2 separate regions of the Homo sapiens genome follow, and region 2 is linked to region 1. The links come from fine-mapping of genetic effects on gene expression. A gene starts in region 1. The other region holds a variant in brackets. All regions are shown on one strand. Distances are from middle to middle. Region 1 holds the start of EBF4 (EBF family member 4). Region 2 overlaps EBF4 (EBF family member 4).

Region 1 (15,074 bases):
GACTTCCTGAGCACTGTTGGGAATCCAGGTTCAAGTCAACACCAAGGGCAACCTGACCTTCACAGACTAGGTCATTCAGGTGGACTGTGCTCCAGAGTGTATGCAGATGCCTGTGGGGAGATGCCAGCAGCTGCAGAGGTGTCTGACTGCTATTGCTGGGGCTGCCCAGCAGGTCCCGGGAGATGCTCCTTTGCAAGGCTGAGCAGGACACTCCAGGGCCCTTTTCGCGGCAGCTGCTCTCCCCTGCCACAGCATAACTGTCTGGTACAGACAAAGCCCCCCTCACAGTCTCTGTTCTCTCTTCCCAAGGCCACTCACGGCTCTTCACATCCTTGACTGCATGCTTGTTATAGTAAGCAATTTAACCACAGCCAGCTCAAATCCCACAGAGGACAAGTGACCAAGGCTGGAGCCTCGGCCTCCTCTCAGAGGCACCCCCAGGCGTCTTGCCTTCCCTTCTCCCCACCAAAACCTAACTCCTGGCTGCCTTGATAACTCAAGGTTTTGAGCCGTGCCTTGCCCTGGTCCTAATTTGTCTTTGAGTCTGGGATGCTAGGGCTACGGGGGACAAGCCCTACTTTCATCAGTAATGGGGGGAGGCTCTTTGTTGACACCCATCACCCCAGGAAGTGGAGGGAGCAAAAACTCCTGCATCTCATCCCTTTTCGCAGATTTCCCCAAAGTCTCTCTCTGCTAAGTCCAGCTCTTCTTAGCCCCATCCTGACAGGGCTCCACCAGTCCCTTTCCTCTACATCCCCCCTTCCTCCAAGCATCCCATTGGCCCCTGCTCTCCCCTGCAGGCACCCTCTGGACCCCGGGACTGCTGATGATGATCAAGCTGGGCCTGGCCCTCCTGCCCCAGACAAGATCTATTGGCCTGGCCCTGCCCAGCCCCTGACATGCCAGCCCCTGGCCATGGTGCAGACTGGGGAAGATAAAAGCAGTAGCCCAGTGGGGCACACCCACCTCAACAATGCTTGCACAGGGAGGACCTGGTGGCTGCAGGCAGCTGCCCAGAGCCTGTGTCCAGTTGGTCCTGCTGGAGATGAGGTTTGGGTCTGGGGAGGGTCCCTATCCCCTCTTCCCACTGCCCCCAGCAGCTGCCCTGCTCACCTGCCCCAGGAAATTGGCACAGTGACCAAAGTCCCTGAGGGCAGGGGAAAGGGAGGGGGAAGAATCTCACAGGCCTGCTCTCCCCCTCTTCTTTTGGCCCTCAATTCTACCTAAAGACTCCCCACTCCACTGCTCTCTGCCCACCCTCTCGCCACCCACCCACAGGCCTGCCTGCCAGGTCCCAGGCTGAGAATCGGCTATGAATTATTAAAGCAAACAAAAGCATTTCCTAGCAGGGATGCTAGCCTGCAGCTGCTTACAGGAAAGGCAGCCCCAGCTGGCCTCCCTCTCCGGGGCCCTGCTAGTGTGCAGGGATCAGCTCCAGGGGGAGGTCTGGCCTGGGCCTTCCAGAGGTCTCCCCAGACTGGGAAGCACATCAGAAGGAGAAGAGAGCTACTTCTGTGCTGAGTGTGCCAGCAGGAGGACTTGAGTCTTCAGGGGAGTCAGGGGAAGATGGGCTGGGGCTGGGCAAATGGATCTCAGAGATAACGTCCTGTTGGCTCAGGGCAGGGGCAGGGGGTCCTTGTGCAGACTTCCCTGGTAGGAAGACATTGGTAGGGAGAGGGCAGCCCTCTCCACCAGCGTTCCCATCCCCATTGCCTCCAGTTTAAGGGTATGCAGCCCCTCTGCTCTCCCTACCCCCTTTTTCTTTCTTTCTTTTTTTTTTTGAGACAGAGTCTCGCTCTGTCACCCAGGCTGGAGTGCAGTGGCGCGATCTCGGCTCACTGCAAGCTCCGCCTCCCGGGTTCACGCCATTCTCCTGCCTCAGCCTCCTGAGTAGCTGGGACTACAGGCGCCCGCCACCACGCCCGGCTAATTTTTTGTATTTTTAGTAGAGACGGGGTTTCACCGTGTTAGCCAGGATGGTCTCGATCTCCTGACCTCGTGATCTGCCTGCCTCGGCCTCCCAAAGTGCTGGGATTACAGGCGTGAGCCATCGCACCCGGCCCTCCCTACCCCTCTTTTGCTCAGAACTTTCCTTCCTGTTGGCAGAGCCTCCCTCGCTGATCTTAGCAGGCCTTCTGGGCCTTTTCCTCCCCACCCACCTTCTGTAAAATCTTGGCATTGTTGTAAAAGTCAAGCTGTAGAACTGGGCAGGAGAAGCTGCTCCAGTAGCTGATTCCTGGGTCAGGTAGAACCTGGAGTCTTCCAAAGTCAAGAGGGGAACCAATATAAGGGGACTTGGGAGCCTCTGAGAAACATTACTGCTTCCTCCGGCAGACAGTCATCACCCCCATCCCCCATGGACTGCCTGAGCCTGCCCTGGGTGCTGTGGACACAAGGATGAACGGACCGCTACCCTTGCCTTAGGGGAAGGCCCCAGCTGGCAGGGCAAGGAGGACCGGGACAGGCAGAGGAGAGCAGATGCTGGCCTATGGTAAGCATTCGTAGGCAGCATTAAAGCCACTCCCGTGGGCAGGGTGGGAGGGCACAGAAAGAGCAGTTGCTGGGGTCGGTGGGTGTAAGAGGGAGTCCTGAGGCTGGTGAGACTTAATCCAGGGGATGTGCGGGTGCTGAGGGCAGAGGGATTGTTTCAATAGACCATAGCACTTACTGGAGGCGCAGCTAATTCTCCAAGTATCCACTGCCTGCCAAGCATCATGCAGAGGAGGCTGGGGAGGAAGGCTGGAGTCAGACCATGATAGGCCTTGAATGTTGGAGATATCCATGAGGAAGCAGTGGGGCTTGGGGGTTGGTCACTTTATTTTATTTTATTTTATTTATTTACTTATTTATTTTTGAGGCACAGTTTCACTCTGCCGCCCAGGCTGGAGTACAGTGGTGCGATCTTGGCTCACCGAAGCCTCTGCCTCCCGGGCTCAAGCAATCCTCCCACCTCAGCCTCCCAAGTAGCTGGCACTACAAGCATGCTTCACCACGCCCAGCTAATTTTTGTATTATTAGTAGAGACAGGGTTTCACCATGTTGGCTAGGCTGGTCTCGAACTCCTGGCCTCAAGTGAAACGCCCACCTTGGCCTCCCAAAGTGCTGGAATTACAGGCGTGAGCCACCGCGCCCAGCCTGGTCACTTTATTTGTAATCGGAGAGAGACATGATCTTAAAAAAGTACTTTGGAAATACTGCTTTGGTCCCCAATGCAGGGAAGATGGTTTTAGGGGAGTGGTGAATGGCTGGGGCTAGGCACTGGGCCAGGAGGCTGAGGTGGTAACCAGGGTGCAGTTAACCTTCAAGCCAGGGAGGAAGCGGGTGGAGGGCCAGGGGGTTTCATTGCTAAAAGTGGTGGCTGAGGGCACTGAGATTGGGACTAGGACACGGAAAAGAACATTCCTAAGCCTTGACAATCAGGCAACTGTGGGGTGAGGCTGAGGAAGGTGTCAAAGCCAACTCTCGGATCCCAGGGAGTCTTTTGGGAGAGCACTTCCGTGAAAGTTTCTCAGAGATGAGAGGGAGAGAAACCAGGCCGTGATGAAGGCGGAGGCAGGGCCAGGGGGAGGAATTTTCATTGTTGCTGTTTTGGGATGAGAAGACCCGTGCAGAGGACTGACTGAGGAACCAGATACAACTGTAGTGATGACAGACAACACGGGGAAGAGTGGGGAGGAAGGATGAGGCAGCTCCCTCTGGGACAGGGAGGAAAGTCAGCTGAACAACAAAGCGAGTGGGGGCTCCTAGTCTATGTCCTGAGACAGAGAAGTCTCCACACTTGGGGATTAGCAGACCGAGCCTGAAGAAAGCCCCTGTTCACATTGCGGAAGCCCTCTGCATCCCAGCAATGTGGCCCTCACAATGTGGGGAGTCAGACTGGACACCCCAAGCCCACTCAACCCCACTATGCGCAGACACCACTGCTGTGGCCCATGCTCTGGGGGAAGCCTTATCCCCACACTTCTTGAACCCCACGCAGTCTCCAAGGGCACTGCCTCCTTCACGTCTGCTTCCCCTTCATCAGACCTGCCTCTGGGTAGGCACAGAGGGAAAGGTTGCAGAGAAATGGAACCTTAACTCCCAGAGGCCCCCATCAGCACTCCTCACCCACTCTTACAAAGAGCTCTCGCCACACAGCAGGTGGTGGGGCCAAAGAGGGGGCCATGTTAAGAAACTAACCTTCTCAAGTTGAAAAAAAAAAAAGCCAGAACCAACAGAAGAATAGGCAGGAGGTGGAATTGTAAGCATAGCACAGGAAAACACAAGTTAATGGGAAGAAAAATAGGAAGGAAATACACTAAAATGTTGACAGTAGTTGTATTACAGAGGAGGGACTAAATTTTTTATTTTCCAATTTTTCTAGAATATAGCTATATCCCTTGTAAAAGTTTTGGAAATTAATTCATCCACAAGACCCTTTCTCTTCCGTAAGAGATCAGCTCCAGAGCCCCCCAGCGTTCCCTCCCGACAGCCAGGAAAGGACCGGCGTGCAGAAACGGCTTCAGTTTGCACATGAAGCGCGGTGTGTGTCTGTTACACGGTGAGGTTGAGGCGTCCTGCGGAGTGTGAATGTGGGCTCCTGTGTCAGGCCCGGTCTGCATTAAGCCCCCCATTCAGAATCCCTTCGGGCTGCTGCAACAGCTCAGACTTCTGGGAAGCCAAGTGCCCACCCTGTCCCAGCTGTCAGCAGAGCTGGCACCTCCCTAATCCTAACCACTGTGACTCCCCATAGGATACCTAAATGCCTCCCTCCATGGTCACAGCTGAAGGTGCAAAAAGCCAGGGGGTGCAGGGGCTTTGGGGGCAGGTCAATAAACTTTTAAAGTTCGCTTTCAAATCCTGGAGTCAACCCCCTACTGAGACTCCCAGACCCCTGCAAAGGAGTCAGAGGAGACCGGCGCGGGTGCTGGGTTCCCAGGGACTCTCTGCCTTCCAAAGGACCTACCAGAAAAACACCCGAGGGAAAGGCAGGGGCCCTGCCCAGTTCCCAGGCCAATCAGTCCAGCCAGGCCGACTGCCCACCTCATCTCTTCGCCACCGTCCAGCCCCCAGCCGCTTCTCTGGCTCTGCACACCCCCATCCGCCAACTCTGAGGGGCGTGGGAAAGGAAAAAGGGGGCTGGGTTTCGTGCCTTTCCTGACAGAGAGCTGCGGAATTGGACAAGGAGAGTCACTGGGACTGCCCAGGAAGGAGGGGCTGGACGTTCCTAGACGGCCGGTGGCTGTGGGTCATGGCTGGGAGCTCTGCCTCTTCTCTCAGAGCCATAGACAGCCCGGCTGGGGTGGCGTTCACCGCCGCACCCGCGAGCGGCCGTCAGAAATCTACCGGGGCAGCCCGGAGTGGAGGCAGAAGCCCCGCCCCAGCCCGCCCCACAGCCTCAGGAGGCAGCACAGGCACTCCGGACGGGGTGGGCCGGGGAGCTCGCCGGGACCGTCCAGAGTTAGGGCTCCTTCCGCCCCTGGCTCCAGCAGCTCCAGCAAGCTGAGCTGAGGCGGCGCGCAGCCGTCCAACCCGAGCGCACCGGGTCCGGTCCGAGCGCTTACCTCTGCGCCGCGGTGCTGGCGTCCAGGATGCCCGCGCCCTGCATCCAGGAGCGCACTGAGCCCAGGCCGGCGGGCAGCAGCGGCTCCTCCTTCAGGTTCAGCCCGCTGCGGGGCAGAGCGTCCTGCGCAGGGAACATGAGGGCGCGCGGTGAGTGAGCGCCCCCGCCGCCCCGGATCCGGTCCCGCTGAGGCTGCGGGCGTCTAGCTCAGCCCGACCCGACGGCACCAGGCGCCTCCAGCAGCGCAGCGCCGAGTCCGGGTGGCTCAGTGCGCGCTCGCCTCTTGGGCGCTCCCTCGGAGAAAGCGGGTCCGCGGGCGCCGGCGCTGTCCCCTCCCCTCCTGGGGCGCTGGGCGGGGAGATGGAGGGATTCCCCCGCGGCCTGAGCGCTGGCGGGCGGACTGCGAGCGGGGCGGGGAGGGCGGGGAGCGGAGCCCGCACCCGGTCCGCGCGGAGGCGCCCCAGAGGCGCGCTCTGGCGGCTGCCCGGGGCCGCGGTCGTCGGAGGGGGGGCCCGAGCGCCCCGGGAGCTGCCTCGGGCAAGGCGGGGGCGCGGGGCCGCCCGCCCTTTCCCCCTCGCCGCCCCCACCTCCCGCCCGCCCGCCCGCCCGCGGCGCCAGCGCGGGGCGCTGATTACCATCCGGGAGGCGGAGGCTGCGGGCGCGGAGCTCGGCGGCGGCGGCGACAGTGGCGGCAGCGGCGGCAGGAGCAGCAGCAGCCGCGCGTCCCGGGGAAAGGCTGGGGCCGCGCCGGGCCAGCAGACGCCGCCGCCGCCAGCGCCAGCGCCCCGCGTGCCCCGGCGTCCCGGCCCTGCCGTAGCCCCGGGCGGCAGCACCTGGAGCAGCAGCAGCAGCAGCCCGGCCGACTCCCCCCGGGGCCCGGTTCCCGCGCCGCCCCGCCGCGGCCGCCGCCGCCCGCCGCTCCCCGGGGCCTGGCCTCGGGCCCGGGCCATCCCGCCGCCGCCGCCGCCGCCGCCGCCGCTCCCGGGGGAGCGGTAGCCGAAGGGAGGGAGCGCAGGCGGGAGGAGGGATGTCGGGAGCGGGCGGGCCCAGGGGACGGGGGCCCGGGGGAGGCGGGGGCGGGGCGGCGCGGCCGGCCGAGGGGCGGCCGGGGACGTGACATCATCGGGGGAGGAGCGGCCGGGCCCGGGCCGCGGCGGCGGGGCGGACCCTGGCGAGTCGGTCGCCTGGGCTGGGGGCTGCGGCCTGGTCGAGGCCGCGGGAGGGAACGGAAGAGCCCGGCGGGGGCCACGGAAACCCGCGCAGGGAGGATCCGGGGCCGCGCGGCGAGGGAGCCCGGCCCGAGCGGGAGGTGCGCGCCCCGCTGCGCTCGGGAACCTCCGCGGCCTCCCCGTCGCCGCCGGACGAAGCCCCGGCGTCTTCGCGGCCTCATCTCCCTCCCCCGGCACCCGCCGTACTCTCCGCGCCCGACGCCTTGTGCCTGGACTTGCTGCTCATTTTGACGCCTCCGAGCTTTCGCTCTTGACGTCTTTCTCCCGCGTGACTGTACTCCCGCATTTCCCCGGCGACCCTGACCTCACTTTCACCCCAGCTAAGGACTGAAACGTCCCTGCCGTAGGCTGCGGCCCCAGACAAGCTGGGCGAGGTCCCTGCATCCAACCATCCCGATTCCTGATGCTGGGTTACCTAAGCCTAAAGCATTTTCAGTTTCCATCTGTGCCTTTCAGGAACCTCCTGATTTCTGATTGCGAGTTGGACAGGTAGGCTCAGAGCCCAGCTCACCTCCTGTTTCTCCCCAGCCGCGTCCCGTCTCAGATCCCATTCCTTTTTTTTTATTAGTTCCTGGCACAGAAGTCGTCTGGCCCTTGACCGTGGGGCAGAGACATTTCTGCCCCTCTCCCCACGTTGTCCTGGCCAGGCTTCGAGCAAGCCCAGACTGAGTCCAGCACTTTCCTGCAGAACAGCATGGGGGCCACCTGCCCTGCCTGCCATGTTCACGCTCAGACACCCCTGCAATAACACCTTCCTGCTCCAACTCACTCCCATCCTCTTCTGGGGGGCCTCCAAGTGTGAGTTAGCGTTCTGTCACACATTGGCCCAGATGAGGCGTCCTGGGGGCACTGCTGGTTCTCCTGCCATCACAGAGGCCCTCTCACCTCCTTTCCTGGTCTCTTTACCACCCCTTCTCTCTATGCCTCTCCCCATCACCCACAGGGGGCTGCCATTCCCACCAGGACTCCTTCAGGTCTCAGCTTTTACCCTAGGTGGGATTATCAAACATGGGTTTCTCCTTAAGACAATTCTTAAGCCAGTCTCTTTCTCCATCTCCTGATCTGCCTCTCTAAATCTTGCTTCTCACAGTGTGGTCCCCGGACCAGCAGCATTGACATCACCTGGGAGCTGGTGAGGAATCCAGACTCTTAGGCCCTGCCGGGACCTGCTGAATCGGAACCTGCAATTTACCAAGACCTGTACACACATTACATGTGAGAAGCCCCCCCAGAGCTGTTCCACACTTGCTCCACTCCTCTCCCCAACATTCAGACCCACCTCTGGCTCTCTCATTTCCAGCAGACACCCTTCCTCTTACCCAGTGGAGAGGACTCAGGGAATCTTGGCAGAACCCTGCTGGCACCATCAGCGGCGTATGCTCCTCCTCGTTTCTGTCTTTTCACCCGTTCTCTTCTCTCGGTCTTCCACTGTGGAGATGGATGTGGAACCTTTTTGCTTAGTCCTGTCTTCTGCCTTTCCTGAGATTACCCCACCGATCTCCTGTTTGTGTCTCAATATGTTCTTTTCTCTGCTCAGATCTCCCCATTCTTAAAAGAACTGTCCCCTCCTCCTCGCCTCCTTCTTCAATTTCTGCCCCTCCTGTGTCTGAGACCGTTCACAGGAACGCTCTGCCAAGGATGCCTGACTGGCCCCCAGCAAGCCACTCCTGGGGCCCTTGTGTGCTGGCTCCCTTCCAGCCCTGCCTTCCTGCTTCTGCTCTCAGACTCCGTGGTCTCTCTTGGGCTTCAGGGCCTGGGACCTCCTGGCAGCAGTGGGCTACCCCACCCCCCAACCCCACACACACGGGAAACCACCCTGGTGACCAGATATATATATATATATATATATACACATATATATATGCATGTGTATGTATTTACACACACCTGGGAAATATATATATCTGGTGTATATATATTTACACACACCTGGGAAACTGCCCTGATGACCAGAGCACACTGTCTTTCTCCTCTGCCCTCTGAGCACCTCAAGCTGCTGTGCCTGGCGCTCTTCTTCTGTTCTCCCCTCACAGAATTCACGTTCCTCCACAGTCTCAGAGAACATCTTTGAGGAAATGGTCTCCCCATATGGGACTCTCACTTCTGTCAGTCCTGAACATCAGTGGGTGAGGACAGGGCTGGGCTTGGCCCTCAGAGAGGAGAGGAGCACCTGCCTCCGGGGAGGGTCCCTATCCCAAGAGGCTCTGTCCCTAGGCTGGGATGGGGCTTCTTGGTCTCCACAGGTTCACTCTCCACCAGCCAGCTCTTCTTCCTGACTCCCCTGTGTCTGTGCTGGGCACCTCCTCCTGCTGCCCACCAGGCTTGGAGTTTGGGAATCATCTCCAATACTTTTCTCTCCCTGTCCTGCAGCTACCTGTTTGTTTGGTCTTAACGGGTCCCCCTTCCCTTTCCTCCCTACCCCAGTGCCCACAGAGAATATCTAACAGCAAAACGTACTTTTCCTCCACTGGACTCCACCCTGGCTTGGAGCAGATATGGAATTCCCAGTTCTGCCCACAGCCTCCTCCCTTAGCTCCCGTCCCCAGCTGCTCACCCCCAAACACCCCCATCCTCCTGCCACAGTTTTAAAAAGTGTTGCTTGGATTGGGCCATCGCCTGCTTAGAAACTTAAATGTCTTTTGTGGCTTCTCAAATAAACATTTAGGCCCTTAGTTTGGGAACATTCTAGGCCCTTTGATGCCCTATCCAATTTCTCTTGCCGGCCAGCCTTACCTCCACTCCCTTGCTGTGTGAGTTTCTTGCTTATCCAGCATGGGAGATCACACCGTTTCCCAAACCCAGCTCCCTGTCTCCCAGCTCCAGCCTTCATGCTGGCTGGCCCTTCCTGCCGGAATGCCCTCACTTTGCAGCATTCCTTTTTGTGATGGTTGAAGTGATTTGGTTGGAGTGCTTTTCATTCTGGAAGGTTGTCCCCAAGATAGATTGGGGGATAGATGCTCAGAATTAACCTGCGCAGAAGGTGGAATCAGTCAGCCCAGGAAAGTGGCACTGAGTTAAGGCTCAGTCATAGCTGGGGCAGACTCCCAACTTGCGTGGGTTTCTGTTCTATCCTAACCACATGGAACAGAAAACCAGCCAGGATGGTGTTTGAGGCTTCCCAGAGCCTGCAGCCCCAGAGAAGGGCTCCTGGGTTAGAGCTGCTGAACCAAGGGGTGATGAAGGGAGGAAGGTCAATGAGCAGTTCTGGGGCAGCACTTGGGGGTCAGAGGTGAGTGTCTCTGCTTTAGATCCAGGTGAAAGTCTGTTGTTTCTTGGAACCCTCTGTGCGCTTTTATTTTGCATTAGTTATCTTATTTTTTAACCTTTTATTTATTTATTTTTTTAGAGTCAGGGTCTCACCCTGTCACCCAGGCTGGAGTGCAGTCGCGCGATAATAGCTCACTGCATCCTCAAACTCCTGGGCTCAAGTCCTCCCTCCTTAGCCTCTCAAGTAGCTGGGATTGCAGGTGTGCACCACCATGCCTGGCTAATATATATTTTTTTTTTTTGAGACAGAGGTCTTGCTATGTTGCCCAGGCTGGTCTCGAACTCTTGGCCTCAAGTGATCCTCATGCCTTGGCCTCCCAAAGTGCTGGGATTATAGGTGTGAGCCACTGTGCCGGCCATGCATTATTTATCTTAGTTCCTTTGTATATTGTCCCGTTCCAACTGCTGCATCTTCTCCATGAGAAAGGAATTTGGTGGGTGGGGTGGGGCGAAGTGCTCCAACTGTGGCCACAGAGAGCTACAGGGGTGGTGATGACAGAGGAAGCGTGGTGCACGCCTGCAGAGAATGCCACTCTTTTCTGGCAGGGGCTCACCACAAACCCTTAGGCCAGAGCCTTGGGTCTCATTCTACCCTTTCATTGTGCTCATGTCCACGAGAAGGGCTTTTTTGTGAGTGGCCAGTGCTAGAGAGTGAGCAGATAATGAAACCCAGGTGGCGCCCTTATGAGCTCACAGTCAGGTGGCAGGAGACTCATGAATGCTCAATGTCACTCTGGAGTGACCTGGGCTGTTACAGAAGCGGAGCAAGTCCTGGGACAAGCACAGAAAAAGGGCCTGAGCCTGAAGGTGAGGAGGGGCCCGGGAGCAGCTTGTGTAAGGACTAGCAGAGCGGAATGAATGGGTTTGCTGCACTTCCTTCAAGGTGGAGGTTTTAGCACCCAGCACCGGGAGGGTCATGCTGGTGCCTAACATGCCATGCTAAGGAGTTTGGACATTTTTTCTGTAGGTCTAGTCATAAAACAATGTTTTTTTTTTTTACATCAGCAGAACTCCCCCACGCCTCCGCCGCCTTAAGCGGGTGCAAACCGTATAAAACAGATAGGAAGTGGTGAGTTAGGCTGAGGCGCGCTTGGCCACGCTGTGTGTTGGGCCATAGCGCCCCCCGGAGGCCCCAGAGTGTGATGCCGGCACTTGGATCCACTTCCTGTCAGATCCCCGATGGTAATTAAAATGAAAGGAGGAATACAAAAACTAAAGCGCGCATTAATTATGGCAATTCTCATAGTTCCATGAAGAAATCCAGAATGACAAGGGCCATCCAAGAAGGTGGTCTGGTAGGTATGCGCCAGCTCTGGGCCTTCCTCGCTGTTGATTCCTGAGGCCTCTTCAATTGCTTCAAGAAAACCCCACACCACAAGTATTAGTCTTGCCTTAGGATCCATTCCATCCCACATCTAGGCCCAGTTATTCAATCTTGAATAATAAAACAATAGGAGCTATCGTGGTGGACCCTTTGGCAGGAGAGTCGAGCTCCTATCCCCAGGCTCTGGGATCATTGGTCCTGGTTGTTCACACACCTGCCAATCACAAACCACTTCAAAGACACCCGGTCTCAATGCCCATTGAGGAAGAGGAAGGGGACCGTTTTCCCAGTGCAGCAAGCTATGCCCACTCCCTGCTATTTTGCAGAGCACGGCTGTTCCCTGCAGTCTCAAACCTAAAACTGCAGCAGCACCCAACACTATCCCTGACGGCTGCCCCTTAGCTACTCATAGGCAATGGCAACAATTTTGAAATATTATATACACACACACACACACACATATATATATATATTTACCGGTGGGGCAAGATCAAATTCATTTTCAAATTGTTGGGGAGGGCCAGGCGCGGTGGCTCACGCCTGTAATCCCAGCACTTTGGGAGGCCAAGGAGGGTGGATCATTTGAGGCCAGGAGATCGAGACCAGCCCAGCCAACATGGCAAAAACCCGCTTCTACTGAAAAAAACAAACAAAATGAAACAAAAACAATACAAAGAAAACAAAAATTATCCGGGTGCAGTGGCATGTGCCTCTAGTCCCAGCAACACAGGAGGCAGGGGCTCAGAACTACTATAGAGTACTTGAAATAAATAAGTAAAAGCTCAGCGCAGTTAAATTCCAAGTACATGGGGAGCAAACCTGAGTTCAAGTTACTTGGTTTAAATCAATGTCTCGCCACTGGCGTAAATTGAACTTCAGTACTATGGCTACATTGTCTTCATTCTCACTTGACCCAACATCCGGTTGGCAGTAGGTGCGTTTATTCTAGATCACGTTTGAGTCTCTTTTTTTTTTTTTTTTTTGAGATGGAGTCTCGCTCCCGTCGCGCAGGCTGGAGTGCAGTGGCACGAGCTAGGGTCACTGCAACCTCCACCTCCCGGGTTCAAGTGATTCTCCTTCCTCAGCCTCCCGAGTAGCTGGGATTATAGGAGTGGGCCACCACGCCTGGCTAATTTTTGTATTTTTAGTAGAGACGGGGTTTCGCCATGTTGGCCAGGCTGGTCCCCACCTTCTGACCTCAGGCGATCCACCCACCCTGGCCTCCCAAAGTGCTGGGATTACAGGCATGAGCCACCGCGCCTGCCTTGAGTTTCCTAAAATGCTGAACTTAAGTCAGAATCCCATCTCTGCCACTCACTGGATTTGTAAACTTATACTGAGCCTCAGTTTCCCATCAAATGAGAATGATAGCACACAGTTGTGAAGGTGAAATAAAATTAAACACGAGGAAAACAATTTTACAAACTTTTGAACACTATACCTGTGTAAGGTTGCTATTCTGGGCGTTCAGCACCTTGGGTTTTCCTGTGGAAGTGGGAAAGATATATAACTGTCTTTGTTGGAGACATTAAGCAGCTTATTTCATTTTCCAAATAGATACTAGGGACAAATATTTATACTTAAACTATTACATTAAAAGCAAAAAAGCAAGAGCATAATATTTAAAAAAAAAAAAAGCATGAGAAGTGCTTGAACCCAGGAGGAAGAGGCTGTTACAGTGAGCCAATCGTGCCACTGCACTCCAGCCTGCGCAACAGAATGAGACTGTCTCAAAAAACAAAAACAAAAACCCAAATTGCTGGGGAGGTAGGAGGAGGGTGGGGGAGTGGGGGTCTAGAAGAAAGGAAACTATTATCCTTGAGGTAGAGCAGGGTGCGGTAGGGGTAGGGGGTGAGGGGAATATAGGGTAGGCAGGAGGGAGCTATTTTTCCCCTTGTCCCGGGTGAAGTGGGGAGAGGACTTGGCAGAGGCTGATTCTCCATGAGGCTTAATCTTCAGGCTTTCATCTACACCGGCCCCTTCCAAGGACCCTCGAATATTCCTCGTGACAGGTTCACATGGTTACATATAATTGTGTATTCATAATTTTGTATTCTTCTTAAGGAGTTACTCCTCCAATTGTATAAGCTTCAGGTCTCCCAAAATCTAGATCTTCTGGTGGGACCTGGAGTTGGGTAGGAACAGTTCAGGTAAGAGATAATGAAGACCTAAACTAAAACAAGTTCAGTGGGGAGGGATGCGTTTCTTAATAGAAAAGTGCTATCATTTACTGGCCTGTAGCTCTTACAGATGAAGATGTTTGATTCTTTTCTTCTTTTCTGTATCCATAGTGCTGTGAATAGTCCTTGAAGGATAAATATTTGTGGATGAATACTTGTCTGGGAGGTAGAGGTCAGAAACTCATGATGGATTGCCTATGTGGGGTCCCACAGGGTGCCCCAAAGAGATGAGCTCCCAGCCGGGCGCGGTAGCTCATGCCTGTAATCCCACCACTTTGAGAGGCCAAGGCAGGTGGATCACCTGAGGTCAGCCTGGCCAACATGGTGAAACCCTGTTTCTACTAAAAATACAAAAAATTAGCTGGGTGTGGTGGCACGCACCTGTAGTTCCAGCTACTCAGGAGGCTGAGGCAGGAGAATTGCTTGAACCTGGGAAGTGAAAGTTGCAGTGAGCCCATATTGCGCCACTGCACTATAGCCTGGGTGACAGAGCGAGACTCTGTCTTAAAAAATAAAAATAAAAAGAGCCCCCCACACCTATCCCTTGTCACCTATCCCTACTCTGCTGTGTCACCCAGGCCTATTCCTGGTGTTGGGGAGAGAGGTCTTAAGCTCTCTCTTTCCTTAACCTTCAATGGCTGCTTGGCCTGGGGGAGCGAGGTCCTTGGAATGTGCCATGTGGTGGAAAGAACACCGGACTTGGGGTCTGGAGACCTGAACTCAGTAGGCAAGTTACTGACTTATTCTCAGCTGTAGTTACTTCATGGATAAGCCTGAGGTGCTGGTGGCCAAGTGATGCAACCGTAAGTGGTTAACAGCTTCCTCTTTTTTTTTTTTTTATTATACTTTAAGTTCTAGGGTACATGTGCACAACGTGCAGGTTTGTTACATATGTATACATGTGCCATGTTGGTGTGCTGCACCCATGAACTTGTCATTTACATTAGGTATATCTCCTAATGCTATCCCTCCCCCCACCCCACAACAGGCCCCGGGGTGTGATGTTCCCCTTCCTGTGTCCATGTGTTCTCATTGTTCAATTTCCACCTATGAGTGAGAACATGTGGTGTTTGGTTTTTTGTCCTTGCGATAGTTTGCTGAGAATGATGGTTTCCAGCTTCATCCATGTCCCTACAAAGGACATGAACTCATCATTTTTTTATGGCTGCATAGTATTCCATAGTGTATATATGCCACATTTTCTTAATCCAGTCTGTCATTGTTGGACATTTGGGTTGGTTCCAAGTCTTTGCTGTTGTGAATAGTGCCGCAATAAACATACCCATGCATATGTCTTTATAGCAGCATGATTTATATTCCTTTGGGTATATACCCAGTAATAGAATTGCTGGGTCAAATGGTATTTCTAGTTCTAGATCCCTGAGGAATTGCCACACTGACTTCCACAATGGTCGAACTAGTTGACAGTCCCACCAACAGTGTAAAAGTGTTCCTATTTCTCCACATCCTCTCCAGCATCTGTTGTTTCCTGACTTTTTAATGATTGCCATTCTAACTGGTGTGAGATAGTA
Region 2 (15,074 bases), 50 kb before region 1:
GCCTGGCTGGGGCCCTCGGGGGCTCCCGGGAGGGGAATGTGGTGGGGAACCAGCACCTTGAGGCTGGTGGTTGGATGCTGGAATTTAGGGTCACTGGTGGGAGGAGGAGGGCTTCAATCCTGCAGTGTCTGAGCTGGTGGAAGGGGGCCAGCTGGATCAGGTGATACCCCCAGATGAACTGACTCCCCAGGCGCTACAAAAATAAAGACCCCTGAAAAAACTGGCTCCTTAGGCAAAGAATGGCTACTGTTTTTGCATACACAGAATGCTGGGTTGTATCCACGGACCTCCAAGCCAGGAATGGGGTCTTAGGCAAGTGGAGGTGGGCAGCATCAGCCGGAGAACTCAGCAGCAGGAGCCCCTGCCCTATTCTGGGGAGAAAACTGGGGCTGCCTTCTTCCCCCGCCCTGCACTGAGAGGGGTGTGCAGCTTGGGGATGTGCTAAGGGCAGCTGCTCTCCGCTTCACGCTATGCAAATTGCCTGGGTCGTTAATCATGTAAAAATGTCACAATTAGCATCTTCTTAAGTGGGACTCTAATGAAGCCTCCCTTGGCAGCCAGCACAAGTTGAGAAGGAGCTGCCCCACCCCCAGCAGGCACCAACCAGGCTGGGGAGGCACAGGGCTGGGCAGAGATCTGCCTTGGAGGCCTTTCCCAGGGTGGCAGGGTCACAGCCTTCCCTTCCCCCTCCCCTCCCCTCCATCAGGAAAGGGTGGGGTTGCAAGGGGAAACCCTCTCTCCAGACCCACCTGGAAGCGGCGCATGTCTCTGGGATTCCCCGCATTCTTCAGGCAGTTCTGGTTGCATTTGAGGAAGAACTTGAGGAAGAACCTGAAACAGTGTGGTCGGTGGGCTCAAGGGTCTGGGGGTTCTGGAAACAGATGAAGATCCAACTGCTCCCTGCCATGCCCCCTCCCCACAGGATGAGTCCCCTCTGCCTGCTCCCACTCAGGCACACATCCCATATTCCCATCATGGCCTCCATATACCAGGGTGCCTGATACACACCAGACAGACCCATCACAATGACAACTTCGCTATACAACCATACACACCGTGTGCTGATCACACAGGGCTTATTTATGCCACAAAGTGTATACTTAGCACTCCCACACAGTATATATTCACCATGAAGAGTAAGTCCATTATATACACTACCTATACTTATTACTCATTATACCCAACGCACTGTATACCCATCACACATACAATATATGCTCCGTATGTGGCGTGTACGCACACATACCCCATGTAATGTTATCACACACTGTGTATACGTCACAGTATATGCTCATCACCCATATAGCACATCTGTTATACAACACATCCCTCCCCAGAGTATACCCATCACCCACACCATGTACACTCCTCAGACACAGCACATTCTTTGTAGACACTGTTTATGCCTTGGATACTATTACTCACAAAATACAGCCATCACACACACTCGGGGTATAACCTTCACACAAGCATAAACAACATGTACTCCACATATAGCCTGCACTCATCCCACACATATGGCATACTAAGCAGACACAGAGCCTGTACCCATCATGCACGGTGTATGCCCACCCTACACAGTATATGCACAGAGAAATAGGAAATACACAGAACAAATACATTAATACGCATTTTATGTTGTAAATGATTACCCAAAATATAGTTATTGCAAATACTGTAAAGCCATCCCATATAGCAGATGCCCCCAGCAAATTCACCTCCCACATGGCATATCCTCCTCCCACACATTTTATATCCATTATACACATAGGAAAAGCTTAATCATACAGAGCACATACCCACCATATACACATGGTGTATCTGTCAGACATGTGGTACAGAGACACCGTGAATGTCTTCTTTTTTACATAGAGTTATTGGGAAAAAAACACATATGCGCTGATGAGGTTGCTTTTTAGACAAACACATGAGCACTTTGTCCTCCTCTCCTTCCTGGCAGTTGGCTGGGAGGGTGGGTCCTTGGTCCTGTCACCTACCAGTAAGGTAGCCATGGACAACATTCTGGCTGTTGTACTCTTTTTTTTCCTGTTTTTTTTTTTTTGTTTGTTTTGTTTTTTGTTTTGAGACAGAGTCTTGCTCTGTTGCCCAGGCTCGCCATGTCTCACTGCAACCTCCACCTCCTGGGTTCAAGCAATTGTCCCTGCCTCAGCCCTTGGCTTCCCGAGTTACAGGGGATTACAGGGGGATCACAGGGGCCTGCCACCACGCCTGGCTACTTTTTGTAGTTTTAGTAGAGACGGTGTTTTGCCATGTTGGCCAGGCTGGTCTCGATTCCTGACCTCAGGTGATTCACCCACCTCGGCCTCCCAAAGTGTTGGGATTACAGGCATGAGCCACTGCACCCAGCCCTGTTTAACTCTTGGTAAACTCGGAATATGATCAGTGTCTGCCTTATGCCTTATAGCACTCTGTGAGCATCTGGGAAGATACCCTTTACAAACTGTAGAGTGCAGGGCTAACGTCTGCAGTAGGTCCTGATATGTGGAACAGCCTCCTGGGCCACTGTATGAGTTTCTCCAGTCAGTCAGCTTCCTCATTTTACCTCCACCCAATTGGGAGATATTTTTACCATACTATTTACTAAAGCAAATACAAGAGTCCCAAACCTGGGGTGGAACTTTAACCACGGTATAGTTACTCATGTACTACTTATATACCCCAAATTTGAATGTTCATTTAATTCACCAGAGTTGCCTCCAAAGTCTGCAAACATTAAATTTCTGTTCAGAGGAAAATTTGTTACAGGTCCTGAAAGCCCAGTCCCCAAAAAGGAGGTCACCAAGTGCTGGGAGGAGTAAGCACCAGCCCTGGAACTGAGGTGTCCCCAGCAGGCAGCCCCTCCTTGGGAGCTGGTGGCAGTCACCTTCCTAGAGATACCTCTCCCTGGGGTCCTGCCTCTGTCTACATTCTCAGCACTTGTCATGTTCCCCCACAGTGGGCACCCCCTATATTTCCCAAATGGTGCACCCCTACAGTGTAGACAATCCATTTACCCCTGCAGGATACCCTGCAGTGCAGACAGCTGTTATGCCCCCAAACAGTAGTCACCAATGTGTAGATGCCATATATATCCCTATGGGTCACCCCAAGGTGCAGACACCTTCAGTGCTCCTGAGAGGTACACCTGCACAGTGGGCGCACTCCATTTCTCTCTTATTAGTTACTAATCACTCCCTACACCCCTTATGACACCCCATGGTGTAAACACACTACACCCACATGTGCGACATGTTCCTCATCCATGCCCCACATTCACATGTGACAGAGTATAGACTCCCTACTCACACACACAGGCAGACCAGCTCATTTAAATTAAGTACTCGTGTGCTCGGTCCTTTGGCAGGTGCTAGATGGAGGGAAAAACACCAGGATGGGGCATGGTCTCTGTCCTAAAGGGATTGAAGGCTCACCTTTGGATACCACTGAAGATGCGACAAGCATAGGACTGCACCAAAAGATGACACATGTGCCCACTGCACCCCACTCCACTCAAACCTACAGGATCAAGAGGAAGGGTCCTTGGGAAGGGGCCAAGATAGGGGCTCTGGCCAGGCCTGGACTCTCTGCATGACCCGGGGTAGGTAAATCCTTCCACACCCATGAAGGGAGAGTAGCGATTGACGGCTGCCGTGACACCTTCTAGTCCTGCCTCTGGGACATCCTTTACTTCTGCCCTCCCCAAGGCTGTGGTTTCCTGCTCCCTCACTGGCCCTTCCCCAAGCCTTTGCTCAGCAGGTCTTGCCACTGTCCCTTTACAGTACAGGTTTCATTTGTCCTTTGGGTCCACACCAATTCTCACGCCCTGTACAGCCACCATTTTCTGGCCACTCTAGGTTTCAAGGACCACCCCTTTCTGAGAGCCCTAGGGACCTGCCAGCACCTCTGTCTATGGGGACACCTCAGTGTTTGAGCCTGGCTAGCATTACCTGCAGAGTGTGGGTGAGTAAAAGCAGCTGCACAAGACCATGGCCTGCAGTGGGGGCTGAGGGTCAGTCCCCTTCTCCCTTCCCTTTGGGCCTGTCCTCAGAGCTAGCACATAGTCGAAACCATCCATGGTGTGGCTGAAACCTCACTCCCTTCCAGCTGGTAGTCCACGAGGCTTCTCCCAGTCAGAGAGCCTGCACCACCCCCTAAGACCAGCAGCGTCAGCGTCACCTGAGACCTTGCTACAAGTGTAGAATCTCAGGCCTCCCCTCAGACCTGCTGAGTCAGAATCACATCTCTGCATTCATACGCCCTCCAGGTGATGCTGGTTCACCCTGAAGTTTGAGAACTACCGCACTGGAGCTGCGCTACCCATTACTATAGCCACCAGCCCCACGCGGCATGAACCCTTGCAGTGTGGCTAGTCCGAACTTGAGATGTGCTGTAAGTGTAAAACACACATCAGATTTCCAAGACTTAGAAAAAAAGAATATAAAATAATTCATCAGTAATCTTTTATGTTGATTTCATGTGGGAATGCTCATCTTTTAGATATATTGGGTTAAATAAAATGCATTATGATAATTAGTTGTATCAGTTTCTTGTGGCTACTGGAAAATTTAACATTACATATGTGACTTGAGGCCTTGCTCAGTGGCTCGTGCCTGTAATCCCAGCATTTTGGGAGGCTGAGGTGGGTGGATCGCTTGAGGCCAGGAGTTTGAGACTAGCCTGCCCAATGCTGCGAAACTCCATCTCTATTAAAAATATAGAAATTAGCTGGGTGAGGTGGTGCATGCCTGTAGTCCCAGCTACTCAGGTGGCTGAGGCACGAGAATTGCTTGAACGGGGGAGGTGGAGGTTGCAGTGAGCCAAGGTTGAGCCACTACACTCCAGCCTGGGTGACAGAGTGAGACCCTGTCTCAAAAAAAAAAAAAAAAAGAAAAGAAAAAAAGAAAAAAGAAAAGAAAAAAGCATATTTACATACATATGTGGCTTGCTTGCATTATATTAATATCGGACAATGCTTCACTGGAGTGTATGTCTCTAGGGGAAAGTGACTCGCATTTACTATTGATTGATTGGAGCACAGACTATAAAGTTAAGTGCTAATTTGTAGAAAACTGATAAGATACAAATGATATTTGTCAGTGGGAGCTAAAAATTTTGATGACCTGATATAAAAATTAGCCGGGCGTGGTGGCAGGCGCCTGTAATCCCAGCTACTCGGGAGGCTGAGGCAGGAGAATCACTTGAACCCGGGAGGCGGAGGTTGCAGTGAGCTGAGATCACGCCATTGCACTCCAGCCTGGGGGACAAGAGTGAGACTTCGTCTCAAAAAAAAAAAAATAAAAAAAATAAATAAAAACTTTGATGACCTGGAGGTAGAGCATGGAAAGACAGATAATAAAGACTGGGAAGGGTGAGTTGGGGGGCAGGGAGAAGAGAAGTGGGTTATAGGGTACAAATAGCAAGATAGAAGGAATAAACTTGATGTTTGATAGCAGAGTGGGGTGACTATACTTAGCCAAAATGTATTGTACCTGTGTGATGGACACCCTAAATATCTGGATTGGATCACCACACATTGTATACTTTCACTTGTACCCTGTGAATTTATACTCCCCGCCCCCAAATTCATATGACTTGGAAACAAATGATATTTGTCAGGAGAAGTAAATAATTTCTGTTTGGTGGAGAAATTAGCCCTAAAGATGATAAAATTGTCCTATGGACATTAACTAGCTTTATATCTAATTTGGCCATCTTATTCCAGTATTTTCCACACAATCCCTTGCCTCTCCCTCCCTCCCCTCAACCCCTTTCCATATACGCACGCACTCACACACTCGCACATGTATCACTTTCTCTTCGTCTTCTTTGAATCAGCTTTGTCATCCCATTGGTTCCCTCATCAATAAGTTATAGAAAACTTTGATACATGCTCAGTAGCAATTTGTATGAGAATCACGCTTTTGACATTTTGAAGACTGTGCTTTGGCAAAGGTGACCCGCCCCTAAAGGCTCCTGCCTTCCAAGGCTGGACCTGGAATTAGAGGACTTCCGTTGGGGTCTAGAACCAGGAGCAGTGCCCGGGCTCTCCCCTGGACCTAGAGAGACTGCCGACCCTCCGGGTGCCGCTGCCTGGTCCTCTCCTTGCCCACCAGGGGGAGACAGACACACCGCAGAGGCTGGAAGGGCGAACGTGAGAACAACCCAGGAGAATTCTCCCTTGGCTGACGCCCAGGGGGTGACACTTTATTCCACCTGAGCAGTCAGGGAAGGATGAGAATGGAGTCAGGGAAGAAGAAGGAGGGGCAGCAGGTCCTCCAAGCCATGTCTGCACAGAGGCCAGATGTGGGGGCTGGGGACTGGGGGAGAGTGAGAGACCTGGTGGGCAGGGGAGTTGGAGGGAGACACACACATGGAACACATGTGGACATGGGAACTGCGGGCAGGTGTTCCCCTTGAAAGAAGAGAGCCTGGGAAGGGGCTGGGTAAGTGAGGACAAGGTTCTGGGCCTGGGACACCCTGTAGGGACTTGAGGCAGGAAGGGATGTGCACTTTGTTGAGGGGCTTGAAGCCCTGCTTGTCAGCATGGAACCACCCCCCACCTCTAAAGCTTGGATGAGCCTGGGGGTGTTCTCTGAGCACCCCTCCCCACTCCTGGCCCTATGGGGCTGAAAAGGAGTCTAGGAAAGCCCGTTTTTCCTGACCAGGATGGGGGCAGGGGGCAGGGAGTGGGGAGGAGTAAAGTGAGCCCAAGTCCACAGCCCTCTCTGACCTGAGGATCCCCATGGAGGGTGACCACTGCAGGACCAGTGCCCAGTGCCATCCCACTGTGGCCATGAGGCTCTTGGAGGGCATGGCTTCCTAATCCAGACCCCACAGAAAAGGGAGTAAGGGAAAGGCCAAGTCGCAGAAGCTTCCATTAGGATTACTGGAAGAAAACACCATAAATACAAGCATGACTTACAAATGAAATGCATTAGGGAGGTAACTATGCAAAAACAAAACAAACAAACAAACAACAAAAAAAGAAAAACAGGGAACCAGGTCTAACCCATCAGGCACTCAGCACCTTAGCAACTGCCCAGAACGCTGCTGAGTTTGTCACTTTGGCATTATCTTGCTCAATCCCCCAGGTCGTGTCGGTCTGCAACCATTCCCACTTTACGGATGAGAAAACCAAGGCTAAGCTATTGACTGTGACTTGACAAAGTCACAGTCAATGCTAAAGTAAGGATATGAAAACGGGTCTTTATGAACCACTGATGCCGACAAGAGTCCTAGAAGTCCTTCTAAGTGGGGCTCTCAGAGTCCGACCCAGGCTGGTACTGCAGCGGCAAGCCTGCCTTCAAAAGCAGCTCTGAGAGGCAGGCTGTGTGGGGACCAGGATAGTATGTTGTGGGGATTTCCTCGAGGTTACAAATTCAACAGGGTTGCAGAGGTCAAACTCAGGTCCTCTTGCTCCTAGTTTTGGGCTTTTGGCTGTTGTGACTGCTGCTATCAGTCGAGAAGATCTTCAGTATTAAAAAACAATGGAACCAATAGTTAAAAATTGTTCTAGCTCATTGGGGCTATATGGGCTTCATTATTCCATTCTGCCTGTATTCCACATTCTCAATAAAAACTTTAATGAAAGACCAGAAGAAGAGCTGTGAACAGTGGTCATCCAACTAATGAAGTATCTAAAGGATGGTAGTTATGCATCA[T/C]GACTCTGATGCCTGTGACTTAAAGGAAAGCTCAGAGTAGTTCACCCACACACCCACCTTACCACATCCTGAACTTGGTTTAGCCTTCGTAATCATGTCTATAAACGCTTTTTATTCCTCCCCATAAAAACAGCTCAAGATGAAATGAAAAGAAACGTCTTGTCCATGGAGTATTTCCTACCAAAGAAGCAAACTCTGGGTTGAGTATGGCTAAAGTGCAAACATTTAACTTATACACTACTTCTCAGGGGTGACACCATTGCATTAACTCCCCAAGCACAGTGCTTTACTCAAAAGAGACACTCAGTAGAGAAGGCAAGTGTGAAGGCAATTGATGTGAGTCCACTGTTAAATTCTAGGTTTTCAGGGGGTAGAAGGCAGAGTGGGATGGAGCTGCTTTTTTTTTTCAGTCAGGGTCTCGCTCTGTCACCCAGACTGGAGTGCAGTGGTGTGATCTTGGCTCACTGCAGCCTTGACCTCCCAGGCTTAAGTGATCCTCTCACCTCAGCCTCCTGAGCAGGTGGGACTACAGGTCACACTACCATGCTCAGCTAATTTTGTTTATTTTTTGTAGAGACGGAGGTCTCAGTACGTTGCCCAGGCTGGTCTCAAACTCCTGGGCTCAGGCGATCCTTCTGATTCAGCCTCCCAAAATGCTGAGATTACAGGCATGAGCCACCATGCCTGGCCTGGAGCTTCTTTTGGAAGACAACGTCCAGGAACTTTACAGTGAGTTGATGCCTGCCTGATTCCCTCATGCCCCAGCTGCAGTGTAGACTGTCAAATGGCTCGCAGCTGCCCCAAGGTAATCTGAGAATTACCCTCAGCCAAGAGCATATACTCCCCACCAGTAGCCCACAGCCAATGACAGATTGACATTACAAGGAGGACCAACTCTCTGGCCATTCACACTCCAGACCTCTGCATGGGATAGGCTGACGCTAGACTCCGACCGAGACCACCTCCTTGTTAAACTCCCTCTATACTCATTCCTTTTCTCCTGAGAGCTCTCCTTTGATAAACCTCTTTCACAAGAATCCCCATCTCAGGCTCTGCTTCCAGGAATCCCACCCTAAGAAAACTTAGGTCACAGAGCTAAGGCTTTTCACCAGCTTTTTCTTCCCTGCATCCCCATGAGATACTTAGGGCTGAAATTATGTTCTCACTTCCAAAGAGAAAGCTGTCAGTAACTCAAAGAGCTGGAAGGAGAGCCCGAGTGCATTTTCCACTACAGGTCTGTCAGGGGCAAGGAAGAACGTGTCTAGATTACAGTGCTCCCTAAGGGAACTTTTTCCAGAATGATATGCATTAGCCACGCATGGCTACTAAGCACTGGAAATGTGGCTAGTGCAACTGAGGAACTGAATTTTATTTCATTTTAATTAACATAAATCTATTTTTTTTTTGAAACGGAGTCTCGCTCTGTTGCCCAGGCTGGAGTGCAGTGGCGTGATCTCGGCTCACTGCAACCTCCACCTCCTGGGTTCAAGCGATTCTCCCGCCTCAGCCTCCTGAGTAGCTGGGACTAAAGGCGACTGCCACCATGCCCAGCTAATTTTTGTATTTTTAGTAGAGACAGCGTTTCACCATATTGGTCAGGCTGGTCATGAACTCCTGACCTCTGGTGATCCACCCGCCTTGGCCTCCCAAAGTGCTGGAATTACAGGCGTGGGCCACTGCGCCCAGCCATTTTAATGAACATAAATCTAAATAGTCACATGTGGCTCGAGACTACCATATTGGACAGTGCAGATCTAGAAAGAAGGTATGCAGTGAATGGATATACGAGCTGGGGCAGGATGTTCCAAACAACAGTGTGTCCTGTGAAGGCCTTGGGAAAGACAGCAGGTTAAGAGTGAAGGGTAGATTAAATTGGATATGTGTTTCCAAGCCCAAAGCTGGCACTGCAGCCTGAGATGGGGAAATAAGGGGACAGGGATCTCCGCTAATTTTTATCCTAAAAGATTTGTCTTGGGCTCCCATGAGCCTCCGAAGAAACTGAAGCAGTTTCTGGCTCTCCAGCGTGTTCACTGTCTGCTTCTCTCTACCCTCAGCTCAGGGACAGAGGAGGACACAGAGGGCTGGGCCATTCATCCCCTCATTCATTCCATACACCCACTTAAAAAGATTTATTAAATACCTTCTATGTGTTAGGCACTGCGGCATTGTATAAAATCTTAAGGAAATTACAACCCAACAGGAAAGAGAAACTCAGGAAGACAGAGTGGTGGGCACGGCAGGAGGATGTGCCAAGTGTAATCTGCAGTGGCCACTTATTTTGCCTAGGGGAGGCGGAATGCTTCCTAGAGCTCCAATTTGGTCTTGGGTGATGGGTCTTGGAGGATCTCACCGAGAAGTAGGAGGCAGGGCCCTCCATGCAAAGGGACTAACAGCTCCACCACGGGGCAGACGGCTCACTCGATCAGTGGTGCCTGACAAGACTGAGGAGGGCAGCGTGGCTTGGGGCCTGGGGTTGGGACCAAATCATGCGGGACTTGGATCCTCTGGGTGATGGGAAGGCTACAGGGGATGTCTCCCTTCAGGCAGAAACAGGCACCAAAGGGCCTACGCTAGAGAAGGGAAGGGAAATGAGGAGCTTACTGTAATAGTTCAGGCCCATGTGGGGTTGGCCCAGGCTGCTTCCTGGTCTTAGCCTGCGGTAGAAGCCAAGATAGACTGTCCCCAGGGCCACAGCCACCTGCCAGGCCTGGACCTGGCCTCCCCACCATGATCCCCACCCGGGTAGAGGTGGCTGCAGTGCAGATGGGCTGGAGGACTATAAATAGCCAGGGCGCATACATTAGCATGCCAATGCACCCGCACCCCATCCTCTATGCTAATGGCCCACCATGCGCCTGAACACCTTCTGTTCCCCTGCATGCATTTGCATGCACAATTAGCATAATCTTGTATAATTAATGAACAGCGTCAATTTTAGCTCCTAAGTAATTTGATTAACATGTTGATAGGGCACTTACTAGGCTCTCCAAACCTCAGGGCTGGGCATGGGGCCTGAGGAGAAGGGGAGGGGGTGTGGAGAGACTGCTAAGGGGCCCCCAGCTGCCCACCAAGAGTGGCAGTGGCTCCACTTTCCCCAAACCAGGCCTGAGGGGAGAGGAGGAAGGGTGGAGTGGCCACTAATGGGAGGCCTCTGGGCATGCCACATGCAGCGGCAGGAAGGGGCTGGTGCATGGTCACCATGGTGTGCCTGTGTGGACACAGATGTACACATGCACCCACACAAGTCCTCTCAAGCCTGGGGAGTCTTCTGTCAATGCAGGCTATCAGAGTCCACGAACAGAAGAGAAGGAGAGATAGAGAAAAAGGAGGGAGGAGGGGGGATGGGGCATGGACGGCAGCAGAAGCCACAGAGCTGGAAGGGGTGCTTGCAAGTCAGAAAGAGATTTAAAGGAGAAGGTGGGAGTCTGAAGGAAAGAAGTTGTGGGTTCCTCTGGCCTTGGGCAGAGGTGGTGGTGTAGATGAGACCCAGGCTCTAAGACCAGAGACCTTGGCACCTCTTATCTATGAATCAGGTGAGAGGTGGGTAGCGGGTATTAGCAAGGCCTGGCATCTTCTACAATTCACCAAGCACCCAGGGCAGAGAGAACAGACAGAAGATTAAGTGAGAATGTCCCCCTTCCTATTCAGAGAAAGACCCATCCCCAGCCTGGGATGTCTACCCCTGACTGTGGGCTCTGGTTCTGGAGGCAGGACGTTCCTCCTTGGTTCCCACTGAACTTTTTTTTTTTTTTTTGAAATGGAGTCTCGCTCTGTTGCCCAGGCTGGAGTGCAATGGCGCGATCTCGGCTCACTGCAACCTCTGCCTCCTGGGTTCAAGTGATTCTCCTGCCTCAGCCTCCTGAGTAGCTGGGACTACAGGTGCCATTTTTTTTTTTTTTTTCACATTTTTAGTAGAGACGGGGTTTCACCATGTTGGCCAGGCTGGTCTCAAAGTCCCGACCTTAAGTGATCCGCCCACCTCGGCCTCCCAAAGTGCTGGGATTACAGGTGTGAGCCACTGCGCCCGGCCTGAACTTTCTTGCTGCCGTCCAGGCTCAGCTGCACTTACTCTAAGATGATCGGTAAGGGTGGGGTGGCAGGAGGGTAAGAAATGACTCTGAGGCAGTCACTGTGCTGGGCACTGCATGAATACATCCTACTAACTCCACAGCATCCTCTCCTTCCCAGAATCACAGGAGGCTCATTGGTCAGCTCTATTTTACACATTAGGGAACTGAAGCTCTGGGAGGTGAGAACTTGCTCCCAGTTACATAGCCAGACATCCCAGGTTGGCTTGAGTCCCCAGCCCTCAATAACTCTCCACTTTGTGGAGAAAGCTTATTATTCAAGTTGCAGGCGGTTCACTCACTAGCCGCCTCCACTCCACCTATTATGGTTCCCAGGCTGCCTCATGCCTGCGGTCCCCCTCTTCCCCCAATCTTCTTTTCTTTTCTTTTTTTTTTTTTTTGAGACGGAGTTTCGCTCCTGTTACCCAAGCTGGAGTGCAGTGGCGCGATCTCGGCTCACTGCAAGCTCCGCCTCCCGGGTTCACGCCATTCTCCTGCCTCAGCCTCCCGAGTAGCTGGGACTACAGGCGCCCGCCACCACGCCCGGCTAATTTTTTGGTATTTTTAGTAGAGACGGGGTTTCACCGTGTTAGCCAGGATGGTCTCCATCTCCTGACCTTGTGATCTGCCCACCTTGGCCTCCCAAAGTGCTGGGATTACAAGCGTGAGCCACCGCGCCCGGTCCTCTTCCCCCAATTTTCTATGGAGGCACTGTCCAAATCTCTGCTCCTGTCTCAGCATGGAGGCCAGTCTGGCCCTAAGCTTGGCTTCGGCTGCCCAGAGGTCTCCTCATAAGTCCTTCCTCTTCATTAGGGGTCCTTTGTCCTTATGACTGGCATCTCAGCCTATATGACCTTCGGAGCACATGAGCGAATCTCTCTTGAACCCCCTCTGCTTCTCCCTCTCTCAAATGCTCTCAGCTCTGAAAAGAGTGGTGGGGGTTGGGGGGAATGGGGAAGGAAGTGCAGTGCATTCAGGTGGCAAGAGGGAAACCTTAGTCTCACCTCAGCACTGACCCAGCAGGGAGGTTCTGGAACCTCAAGGGGGATTGCCAGAATGGATCTGGACAGAAGTCTGTGCTTGCAGCATGAGTGTGGGAGATCCTGCTGGAAAGCGTGGAAGGAGATGGATGACATTGGGCTAGTTTTGTGGCTGTAGAGGAAAACAGGGAATGTTGCATTGACCAGTGGATTAGGAAGGGGGCTGATTCTTTTGCAGTTCCCACAGCCCCTTTCATCTAATTGCACTTATAATGTGCCTGATCTAGGGTCTAAATTTGCCCCCAATAGAGTAGACCAGAGCTTACCTTTGCCAGGTGGCTCGGACCTAAACTATTCCAATAGTGTCACTGAACAACACCCACCAGGCAGCAGGCACAATTAAATGCCAGGGAGTATCCATAGCCCCCAGCTTCTATCTATCCCTAGGAGCCAGAGAAGAGCTATGAGCCTCCCATGGGAGGGTATGTTTCCCTACCCCTGCCACAGGGTCATCCTGGCCAATCAAGCAAATATTTAAAGTCTTAGAGCTGTGATGTCAGATACAGTAACCATGTGTTATTTCTTAAATTTGATTTAAATTAAACACAATTAAATATTCAATTCCTCAGTCACGGTAGCTACAGTTCAAGTGCCCAATAAATATGTGTGGCTATTGGCTACCATATTGGTTGGTACAGAATATTTTCATCATTGCAGAAAGTACTATTGGATAGTGTGGTCTTCAAGCCTTACATTGTTTTCTATTTCTTCTTATTATTATGTAATTATAGATAATCTCTACTGACCTTTCTTCAAGTACACGAATTTTTTTCAAAATTATAAATTGTTGTTTACATAATTATATTTGTCTCCTCAACTGCTCTGTAAGCTCTCAGAGGGCAGGGATCATTGTTTAAGCCTCTCTTCTCCCAAGCATCCATCATAGTCCCAGCCCCACAACAGGTGCTGATTGATTCATGATAGAATTCAAGAGTCAAAAATTACTGTGACTGGATGAATGCTGGACTAAAGCCCCCAAGGCACTTTTAACTTGTGCCCAGGTAAGAAATAACAATTACAGGGACAGGACTTTGGGAATTGCTAAGTAAAGACCTCTGAAAATCCATTCTTCCATAAAGAAACAAGAACACTGGCAAACATGGTCAAAATCAACTTTCTCAGAACTCTAAAAATTAACAACATGTGTGCAACAACTCAAGGAACATTGAGGCAAGAAAAATGGCTGAGTTGTAATAAGAACAGAAAGCTTTGTGGTGTTTTAATTTGCCCTATTCCCATCCCCTACTCCCCAGCCCTGTTGAAGACCAGCTACCTTGCAACCACTATTGTAGTTGTGAAAACTAGCAAGCTAGCAACCATAGGAAGGGGTAGAGTGGGTTTGGAGCCTCTCAACAAGCTGTATTCCCAGTCAGTTTTCACTCTTTAACCTTTCTAGCAACTCCCTGACAGCTTTATTTGCAGAACTTGTTATTTGACCCGATTCAGAACTTACTTAGTGGGAAAGACCCTATCTTCAGGGTGTTTGTTGAAAACAGCCAGCGGCAATTGCTTAACATTGCAGCTACATGAGGCAGCAATACAAGTTGGGGGCAAATAAAAGTTTGGCCATAATATTTTAAAGGAAAAAGTGGGGAATAAGATGTTCACAGGGGCTCTGAAAAGCTCTGACATATTCCTGGAGATCTAGAAAGCTATGCATATGTGCAGGGAGAGGCACATGCCCAAAAAAGGCATGGAAAGCCCCTGGTCTCTCACCTCTGGTTTATCCCAAGGCCCTGAGCAAGCAGGAAGTGAAGGTCAAGGCAGAGTTGTAAATCGCTGGAGCACTGAAGGCATGTCTTAACACACATACAGAACCTTTTGGCAATGGGTTGAACACTTATTGGCATTCAAGGCATTTAAAGAAATGCCTGTCCAATCATGGCCTGATAACTAAGCCAAGAGCAGAAACTTCAGTGATTATACATGACAGGAAATATAGACTTTATATAATTAGTCCAAGAAAATCACTAAACAAACAAACAGCAATAGCAATAAGAACAAAATTGGGAGGGAGGATCTGATTGCCAGAGTGCAACATTATATGATTAAAATGTCCAGTTTTCAACAAACAATTATGAGACATGCAAGGTACAGGAAAGTAAGACCCATACATTGTAATAAAGCAGCCAACAGGAACTATCCCTGAGGAAGCCCAGAGGTTAGAATTTTTAGACAAATACTTTATTAATTAATTTATTTTTGGAACAGGGTCTTGCTCTGTTGCCCAGGCTGAAGTGCAGTGGTGTGATCATGGCTCACTGAAGCCTTGACCTCCCAGGTTCAAGTGATCCTCCCACCTTAGT

The links. PIP is the estimated chance that this variant, and not a neighbour inherited with it, causes the effect.
Region 2: its variant is fine-mapped to the expression of EBF4 in whole blood (TOPMed, PIP above 0.99).

What each region holds. Positions count from the first base shown.
Region 1 is chr20:2,684,252-2,699,325 of GRCh38, reverse strand. EBF4 (EBF family member 4) reads right to left here and starts at 6,546. Exons shown (of 17, transcript NM_001395167.1): 1 at 5,544-6,546. The coding sequence starts at 5,680. It overlaps LOC105372507 (a long non-coding RNA gene), which reads left to right and starts at 6,706. Exons shown (of 3, transcript XR_937210.3): 1 at 6,706-7,260; 2 at 7,862-7,986. RefSeq lists enhancers at 1,374-1,917, 4,391-5,375.
Region 2 is chr20:2,734,306-2,749,379 of GRCh38, reverse strand. It overlaps EBF4 (EBF family member 4), which reads right to left. Exons shown (of 17, transcript NM_001395167.1): 7 at 750-831. Among named protein-coding and RNA genes, the nearest start is that of EBF4, 49 kb to the right of the region's middle. RefSeq lists a silencer at 6,035-6,084 and an enhancer at 10,237-10,818. The variant T/C (reference allele first, on the strand shown) is at 7,662.